Regions from separate parts of the Homo sapiens genome. Here all the other regions are linked to region 3. The links come from fine-mapping of genetic effects on gene expression. A gene starts in region 3. Each other region holds a variant in brackets. All regions are shown on one strand. Distances are from middle to middle. Region 1 overlaps ILKAP (ILK associated serine/threonine phosphatase). Region 2 has its middle 7.2 kb from the start of ILKAP. Region 3 holds the start of ERFE (erythroferrone).

Region 1 (2,668 bases), 22 kb before region 3:
CAAAAGGGACCTTGATACTTGTTGAGTGCTTCCTTTCATGTCACAAATGTGACAACAGCCAGAGTGAGCACTTGTCTGTAGTTATTCAGCAGAGTTTGTACCAGAGTTGATATCAAAACCAGGGGCGACTCTCTCCCTAACTGTTGTGTCTTTGACACTTCTTTGCTGCTTGATTCTCTGAACTTACGTTTATCAGCAGGAGGCTGAATGTGAAACTCCATTGTTAACTGTTTTCTTCAAACTCCATTGTTAACTGTTTTTTTCAACTGGTACCTTTAGATGCTGCGCCCACTGAATTTCATGACTATTACAATCTCCATCTTCCCAGGCAATCTTGTGTCGTTATAATGAGGAGAGTCAAAAACATGCAGCCTTAAGCCTCAGCAAAGAGCATAATCCAACTCAGTATGAAGAGCGGATGAGGATACAGAAGGCTGGAGGAAACGTCAGGTAACCAAGGGACTGAGAGGAGCTCATGGGAAGGAGGGCTGTTAGCTGTAGAAGGGTCCCGAGACCTTCAAGGAGTAGAACTTCCCCTGTTACGTAGTCTTCAGTGTGACGAGGCTCTGTCTGAGATCTAACACTGGTGACATAGGTGGATGACAGTTGTAGATTTCACATGTGTCCACGTGGAAGGAAACTTGCCTCCCTACATTTGCAAAAGGACAAATTCATATTTACCATTCACAGTGTTTTCTCTGTGCCTAGGAAGTTTCTTAAATACTGTCACTTTTCGTGGTGGCGGGCGCCTGTAGTCCCAGCTACTCGGGAGGCTGAGGCAGGAGAATGGCGTGAACCTGGGAGGCGGAGCTTGCAGTGAGCCAAGATCGCACCACTGCACTCCAGCCTGGGCAACAGAGCGAGACTCCATCTCAAAAAAAAAAAAAAACCAAAAAAAAAACCTGTCACTTTTCACATTGAATAAGTTACAGTTTTAGGTGAATTCTCCAGAGAGAAAATCTGAAGTAGTTAAGACGGGTTAAGTAATGTCTTTGGACTTCTTGGGAACAACTGGCACAGAGGACCATGTCTTACTTGGCTCTGTCTTTTGCAGTTTCATTTCACTCTCTCTTTAAATCTTTGAAAACCATATGTCTGCTCTGGTTTTATTATCTGCTTCTATCCAAGGCAGCTAAAGGAGGGCATAAGTCTTTTCTTTAGAATTCCACTTCAAGGACATTGCATTATGAATTAGACCAGGAGTATTTTCTGGTTTGTTGTACAGTTTGACTATTAAAATTTTATTTTCTGCCAGAGATAAGAGAGATGTCATCTCTTAGTATAAGACTGCACTTACCTATCCTTTGAAGTGTAGTTTCTCTTCTGTTGTTCATTTGGGGAAGCCTTTTTTATTGCTCCAGGCTGAATCTAGTCAGTGGTACAGGGAGGTTTCTGGAGAGTAGTTGGAACCCTTAGCGTTTGTTCAAAAAGCTCTTGGATTAGTAAGAAGCAGTTTCATTCACGGTCGCTGCAGTTTACATGAGCAGTGATGGGATTATAGGCCTGGTTTCAGGCCTCAAGCAGTGCTGTT[G/T]GCCCAGTTTTTGCCACCGTAACTACTGTCCTGGTAACTACTGTGGACAGTCATGCCTGAGAATGTGACTCTAACATGAGCGTAAGCATCACCTCTTCTCCCCTTTCTTGTAAGTTTTACATTCATTCTGCTTTTGCCTGAACTCCTTGAAAATAATTGGATACTGACAGTCCGATGGCTGAAAGTAAGGCCAGTTGTGTTGCAGTTGCTTCCTATATCCCAGTCCTTACCTGATTCAGAGAAGTGTTTACATGCCTTAGAGAAATCATTTGACAGTGTGGGTTTTGGGTGACTCCTTCATCTCAGAGAAGGGCTGAGGCTAAGAGACCAGCAGCGTGGGTCGCTGCCCCTGAGCAGCAGAGCCCTGTCGTGGTCTGTTCTCCTGCCTGAGGCCAGGGCTGGCTGCCCCACTCTCAGCTTTTATCATTAAATTTTTCAGACATACAGAAGAAACTTGACAATAGTAAAACATTTCCAAATCTACTAGCAGTGAACATTGTGTCATGTTTAGTCTGTATAGATGTGTGTCAGGCTGAGCTGTTTAAAAGTTGCAGATATGATGACATAACAGCCTAAATACTTAAGCATGCATCTCCTGAAGATAAGGACGTTCTTGACATAATTAGTGAGAATTTTCACACCTAAGACAATAATATTTCCTTAGGTTAAGTTATCTAATACCCTGTCTATATTTTTATTTCCCGAGTTATCCCCAAAGTATCTTTGTTTCAAACCAGGGTCTAGTCAGCATCCATGTCTGCCGTGGACTTGGCATTTCTTTTTCTTTTTCTTTTTCTTTCTTTCTTTTTTTTTTTTGAGAGAGAGAATCTTGATCTGTTGCCTGGAGTGCAGTGGCACGATCACAGCTCACCGCAGCCTTGACCTCTGAGGTTGAAGCGATCCTCCAGCCTCAGCCTCCCAAGTAGCTGGGACCACAGGCATGTGCCACTGTGCCTGGCTATTTTTTTATTTTTTGGTAGAGACAGGGTCTCTGTCTGTGTTTTCCAGGCTGAGCTAAGTGATCCTTCTGCCTTGGCCTCCCAGAGTGCAGGGAATACAGGTGTGAGCCACTGCACCCTGCCGAGACTCATTTCTTACCAGGCTTTGAACCATGTTATAGGCCAGCAGTTGTACAGA
Region 2 (2,668 bases), 52 kb before region 3:
CGAGATCGCGCCACTGCACTCCAGCCTGGCGACAGAGTGAGACTCTGTCAAAAAAAAAAAAAAAAAAAAGGAAAGGAAAGAAAGAAAGGAAGGAAGAAAGACTTCAAATAAAGAACCTAGTGATGCATCTTAAAGAAAAGCAAGAGCAAACAAAAGCCAAAGTTAGTACAAGAAAGGAAACAATAAAGATCAGAACAGGAAGAAATGAAATTGGAATGAAGAAGACAATACAAAAGATCAATGAGGTAAAAAGTTGGTTTTTTGAGGCTGGGTGCAGTGGCTCACACCTATAATCCCAGCATTTTGGGAGGCTGAGACAGGTGGATCACTTGAGGTCAGGAGTTTGAGACCAGCCTCGCCAACATGGCAAAAAATCCCATCTCTACTAAAAATACAAAAATTAGCTGGGCATGGTGGCGGGCACCTGTAATTCCAGGTACTCAGGAGGCTGAGGCAAGAGAATCATTTGAACTCGGGAGGCATAGGTTGCAGTGAGCTGAGATCACGCCACTGCACTCTAGCCTGGGCAACAGAGTGAGACTCTGTCTCAAAAAAAAAAAAAAAAAGAAAGAAAAAAAAGAAAAAGTTAAATTACACAAGAGCCCCAGGAAAATCCTGCCCTCTTCTTATCACGCCTCACTGAAGCTATGCTAAAATATACCAATTTGGACCCAGAATCTAGAGAAGGTCAAACTTTTTCTACCTCCAATTTATTTCCCAGATATCCAGAAAAAAAATTACAAAAACTAGAGGGTCCCCAGACATCTCGGTGGGACCTCCTAAATGCAGCCTTCTGTGTCTTTAACAACAGAGATGAGGAACCAAAAATTCAAAAAGACAAGCATCTCCATTTAAAATACCAGATGCTCACCTCTGCTGTCCAAAAGTCAATCACACAAAAGCCTCCCGATAACCCAAAAGGAAACTCTGCCACCTTTTTGGGAGTCTGTTTCCGATGTGGCAACCCTGGACACTGGGCAAAGGCTTGTCCTAACCCCCAGCCCTCCACCAAGCCATGCTCAACTTGTGGTCTTTGGGGACACTGGAAAATGGACTGCCCCCAATGGGGACACCTTCCCCATTC[G/A]GTGTGGCTCATAATGAAGTCCCCCAGCCATCCACAGGAGGAAATCTCTTCACTGCTGGTGCTGACAGCAGAGGACTGAAGGTACCCAGGATTCTTTGCCCCCATGTCTAGTGAGTCCACAGAACCCAGAGGGTAATTGGGACTGTATCTGGTAAGATTATTTCCTTTCTTTTGGATACTGGGGCTAGCCTATTGGTATTAACTGACTATCAAGGCCCGTTAGAACGTTCATCCATTTCTGTGTTGGTATGAAGGGCATACAAGAAACCCCATATAAAACACCGCCTCTATACTGCTCATTTCAGGGAGTCATCCTCACTCACTCTATTTTGGTCATTCCTCACTGTCCCACTCCCTTATTAGGAAGGGATATTCTACACAAACAGGGGGAATCATTCATTTATCGGCCCTACACCAAAGACACCCTTATTTATTATTATGTCAAGAACAGAAGCCCTCCTCAGACACTCCACATCAAACAGACTTAAATCTCAAATTTCTCAGCCATGTAAACCCCATCATATGGAACGCTGACTTCCCCATAATAGCTACCCACCATTCTCCAACCCAAATTTCATTGAAGAATCCTAAGCACTATATAGTGTTTCCAACATTGTCCCCTCAACCCTGATGGATTGCAGGGACTCAAGCCCATCATATCCTGATTTTGGGTGCCAGTATTTTAATCCCCACCCATTCTCCCCACAATACTCCTATTCTTCCAGTTAAAAAACCAGACAGCTCCTATAGACTGGTCCAGGATTTGTGACAAATCAACTCCGCTATTATTCCTGTTTGTCCCGTTGTCCCAAACCCCTACACCCTCCTATCACGAATTCCTCCCAACACTAGCCACTCCTCTGTATTAGACCTCAAAGATGCCTTTCTTACTATCCCTGTACATCCCTTCTCTCAAAACCTTTTTGCTTTCACTTGGGCTGATCCTGACACAGGCTACTCCCAACAACTCGCCTGGACTGTCCTCCCCCAGGGGTTTAGGGACAGCCCTCACTATTTCGGTCAGGCACTTCAATTAGACCTCTCCCAACTACCTCTACAACCCAGCATTTTGCTTCAATATGTGGATTTACTCTTTTGCACCCCCTCCCTAGAATACTGTATTCAACACATCACCAAGCTTTTACATTTTTTGGCTGAATGTGGGTACTGGGTATCCAAAAGAAAAGTTCAAAAATTTCATACCCAGGACTTATCATAACTCCAAATTCTGTCAGCACGAAAGCAAGGTGTTCAACAAATCCCATTTCCTAAAACAAAAAGGGACTTACTTTCCTTCTTCGGATTAGTGGGATATTTCCAAATATGGATAGCAAATTTTGCCATTGTTGCTATATCCCTTTATGAACACACAAAAGAAAATCTTGACCAACTCCTCACTCCCACCCCAGATCTTTATCATGCTTTCTCTCACCTAAAACGTGTGTTATTACAGGCCCCCACTTTAGGCCTTCCAAACCCCCTAAGACCTTTTAATCTGTATTTACACAGTTCTCATAATCAGGCCCTTGGTCTATTAGCCCAACTCATGGCAAACTCCCTCCAACCAGTGGTATATTTTCAAAA
Region 3 (2,668 bases):
ACCGGCCAGGAGGGGTGTGCCCAGCTGACCCTCCCAGCTGCACCTGTGGCCTGTGGCCGGACCCTGACCCCAGTGTGGTTTGCAGGTAGAGCTGTAACAGGCAGAAGGTGGCGTCCCAGGAGACGGCCCCAGCAATGGGGGTGGGTATTGGGCAGCTGCCCTGGTTCCAGCCACAAGGGGTCTCTCAGAAACAAGCCTTGGAGCCTGGGAGGACCTCTGGTGTCACTGTGTCCCCCACAAACAGGGTCCAAGGCCAAAACTCCACCTGGAAGCCCCTGAGCCCCGTCTGCCTCCTGCTGACAGTGCCCTGACATTTGGCTGCTGTGCCCACCTGGGTGGTTTGGCCAACTGCACGGGGAGGGGGTGCCTTCAGTCCCTGGGAAGTGGCTGGGTGTGATGGGGCCGGGATAGAGAACTCTGGGGGACCCCAGGCCTGGCTGCACCCCTGTCCTCTCTAGTAGATGCGTTCCTGGCTCTCCCCTCTACTGCCCCTGAGCATCTTCAGAATAAACAGCACCGGCCGCCCACCCCGGCTTCCCTGGGGCAGCCCTGTCTCCCTGACCCAAGGCCCGGCCACACTGAGGGCTCCTCTGAAGTTCTCCCCTCCTCAGGCCTGGGCCACACCTCCCCAACCGGACCACCCTCTGCTCAGCAGTCCAGGCTCCAAAACCCTGGAGAGGAGGGGGCAGGGCAGAGCTCAAGATCACCCACTCACGGCCAAAAGCCACCTGATCACTTGACTCAAAGCCACATGTCATTCCCCACCCTGCACAGCCCCCCGACCCCAGATCCGCAGGAAAACACTTTTTGTTTTCCAGATAATTGCACCAAATAGATTGGGGGCGGTGGCAGTAATTCGCTTACACTTTTTACAAATGCGTTCTTCCCAATTTCCTCAAATCAAGTTATTTACACTTTATCTATTTCCCAACTTCCTTCTGTCCCAAAAGAAAAGGGGGGTTTCGCCGACCTAGTAGAACCTTGCTTTAAGTCAAACTACCCCAAAGCCAAAGTCAAGGCTGCCCCGCCGGGCTGAGGGCGGCGTCTACACGGCCCTGAGTCTCTGCGGAGCCCCGGAGCCCCGGTGCCAGGCGATGCAGCAGCCCTCGGGGGTGAGGGCGGGCTCGGCCTCCACGTCCGCCTCCCGCCGCCCCGAGCCGGGGCGTGCGGGCGCGGGCTGGGTCTGGAGCGGGCCCGGGCGTCTTACCGGCGGACGAGCGGCCGGCCCCGCGCGGCTCTCCCCGGGGCCCCGGGGCAGCTCGTTCCCGGGCGGCGGCTCCCTGCGGGCGCGGCTCCTCGAGGGCGCCCCAGGCTCCGGGGACCCCAGGCCCGCGGCGGCGGCGGCCAGCAGGCCCGCGTAGACGAGCAGCAGGCGGGCTCCGGCGGGGCGGCGGGCCGGGGCCATGCGGGCGGCGGTTCCCTCGCGGCTCCGAGCGCGGCGTCTCGGACGCCCCGGGCTCCTCGCCTTATAACGCGCTTGAATCCCCCGCCTCGCCCGAGACCGCGCGCCCGCCCGCGCCCCCTCCCGGCTCCCGTGCGCGCTGCATGGGGATGGGGGGAGTGTCCGGGCGGGGGAGGGGGAGTGGGGGAGGGGGCACGGGGAGCGGGGCAGGGCAGGGAGAGCGAGGGGTGTTCCCCTGCTGGGCGCGTCCCCCCTGCAACTCCTGGTTCTGGGATCCCTCCTTCGCGCTGTCCAGCGCTTCTGCTTCCTGGGGAGCGAGGCGCCCCTTCTCCCAGCCCTGGACCCTCGGCCCTCGCGACCCCATTTTCTTTGCGGGGAGCCAGGCGCTGCCTCCTCCCAGACGGCTCGAGGCATCCTTTCTCCCCGCTCTGTCCCCCACGTCCTCTGCAGGGACCCCCGAGGTACCCCCTCCCCATTCTCCTGGCTGCGCCCCGCAAGGCCCAGGCCTCTATGACACAGGTGGAGCAAATCTGAGCCGGGAGACCCTCAGGGCCCCTTCTCAGCGCCCCTTTCCCAGGCGGGAACTCCCCTTTCCAGGCCGCCCTCCGTCCATGGCTGGCGTGCTCTGAGCGCAGGGATTCACTGTTCTTCCCCACCTGTCGCACCTGCCGGGACCCAGAAGACGCAGGGAGCCAAGAAACAACTCAGGACAGCCGCCCTGCCCTGGTGGGGCTGAGCGGGGCCTGGGCTGGGAGAACTGACCCCTATCGTGCCCTAGCGGGGGTGTGGGGGCAGACCAGACCGGAAGCCAGGCTGCCCACCGCCCACCGGAATCAGTGCCCCCAGAGGTGGACCAGACCCTGCAGGCCTCGGAGAAGGTGGCAGAGAGGCCTCTGGGCGGCCCTACCAGGAAAGAGCCAGCCCCAGCCCCACCCTACCCCTGGCTTTGTTATATCGCATGCCCTTTTGACTATCTGCCCCACCACTGGACGCTAAGCCGAGGAGGGTCGCACACTTGGCTCGCTTGCCCCACCCCCGAGGCACCTGCCCCTGGTGGGTACACAGTGCTTTTTGTTAAAGAACGGGAGAAGGCTCCGCTGGAAAAGTACCTTACACTCACACCGAGGGCTGCTGTTCCCGGGGAACTCTTTTGAGAAGAGCCCGCTGGGGAAAGGAGGCCTTACCCTGTCCTGGTTCACAGGATGTGGCAGCAGGGACTGAAAGGGGCACCAGCAGCCGCAGGTGGTGCCCCCCAGGCTTGGGGAT

What was found. PIP is the estimated chance that this variant, and not a neighbour inherited with it, causes the effect. A credible set is the group of variants that fine-mapping cannot tell apart.
Region 1: its variant is the best candidate, but not a certain one, in a credible set for the expression of ERFE in whole blood (TOPMed, PIP 0.60).
Region 2: its variant is fine-mapped to the expression of ERFE in whole blood (TOPMed, PIP 0.93).

Annotation. Positions count from the first base shown.
Region 1 is chr2:238,179,847-238,182,514 of GRCh38, reverse strand. ILKAP (ILK associated serine/threonine phosphatase) reads left to right here. Exons shown (of 12, transcript NM_030768.3): 9 at 329-450. Among named protein-coding and RNA genes, the nearest start is that of ERFE, 22 kb to the right of the region's middle. The variant G/T (reference allele first, on the strand shown) is at 1,532.
Region 2 is chr2:238,209,594-238,212,261 of GRCh38, reverse strand. No RefSeq gene overlaps it. Among named protein-coding and RNA genes, the nearest start is that of ILKAP, 7.2 kb to the right of the region's middle. The variant G/A (reference allele first, on the strand shown) is at 1,085.
Region 3 is chr2:238,157,745-238,160,412 of GRCh38, reverse strand. ERFE (erythroferrone) reads right to left here and starts at 1,443. Exons shown (of 8, transcript NM_001291832.2): 1 at 1,208-1,443. The coding sequence starts at 1,405. RefSeq lists a silencer at 1,396-1,465.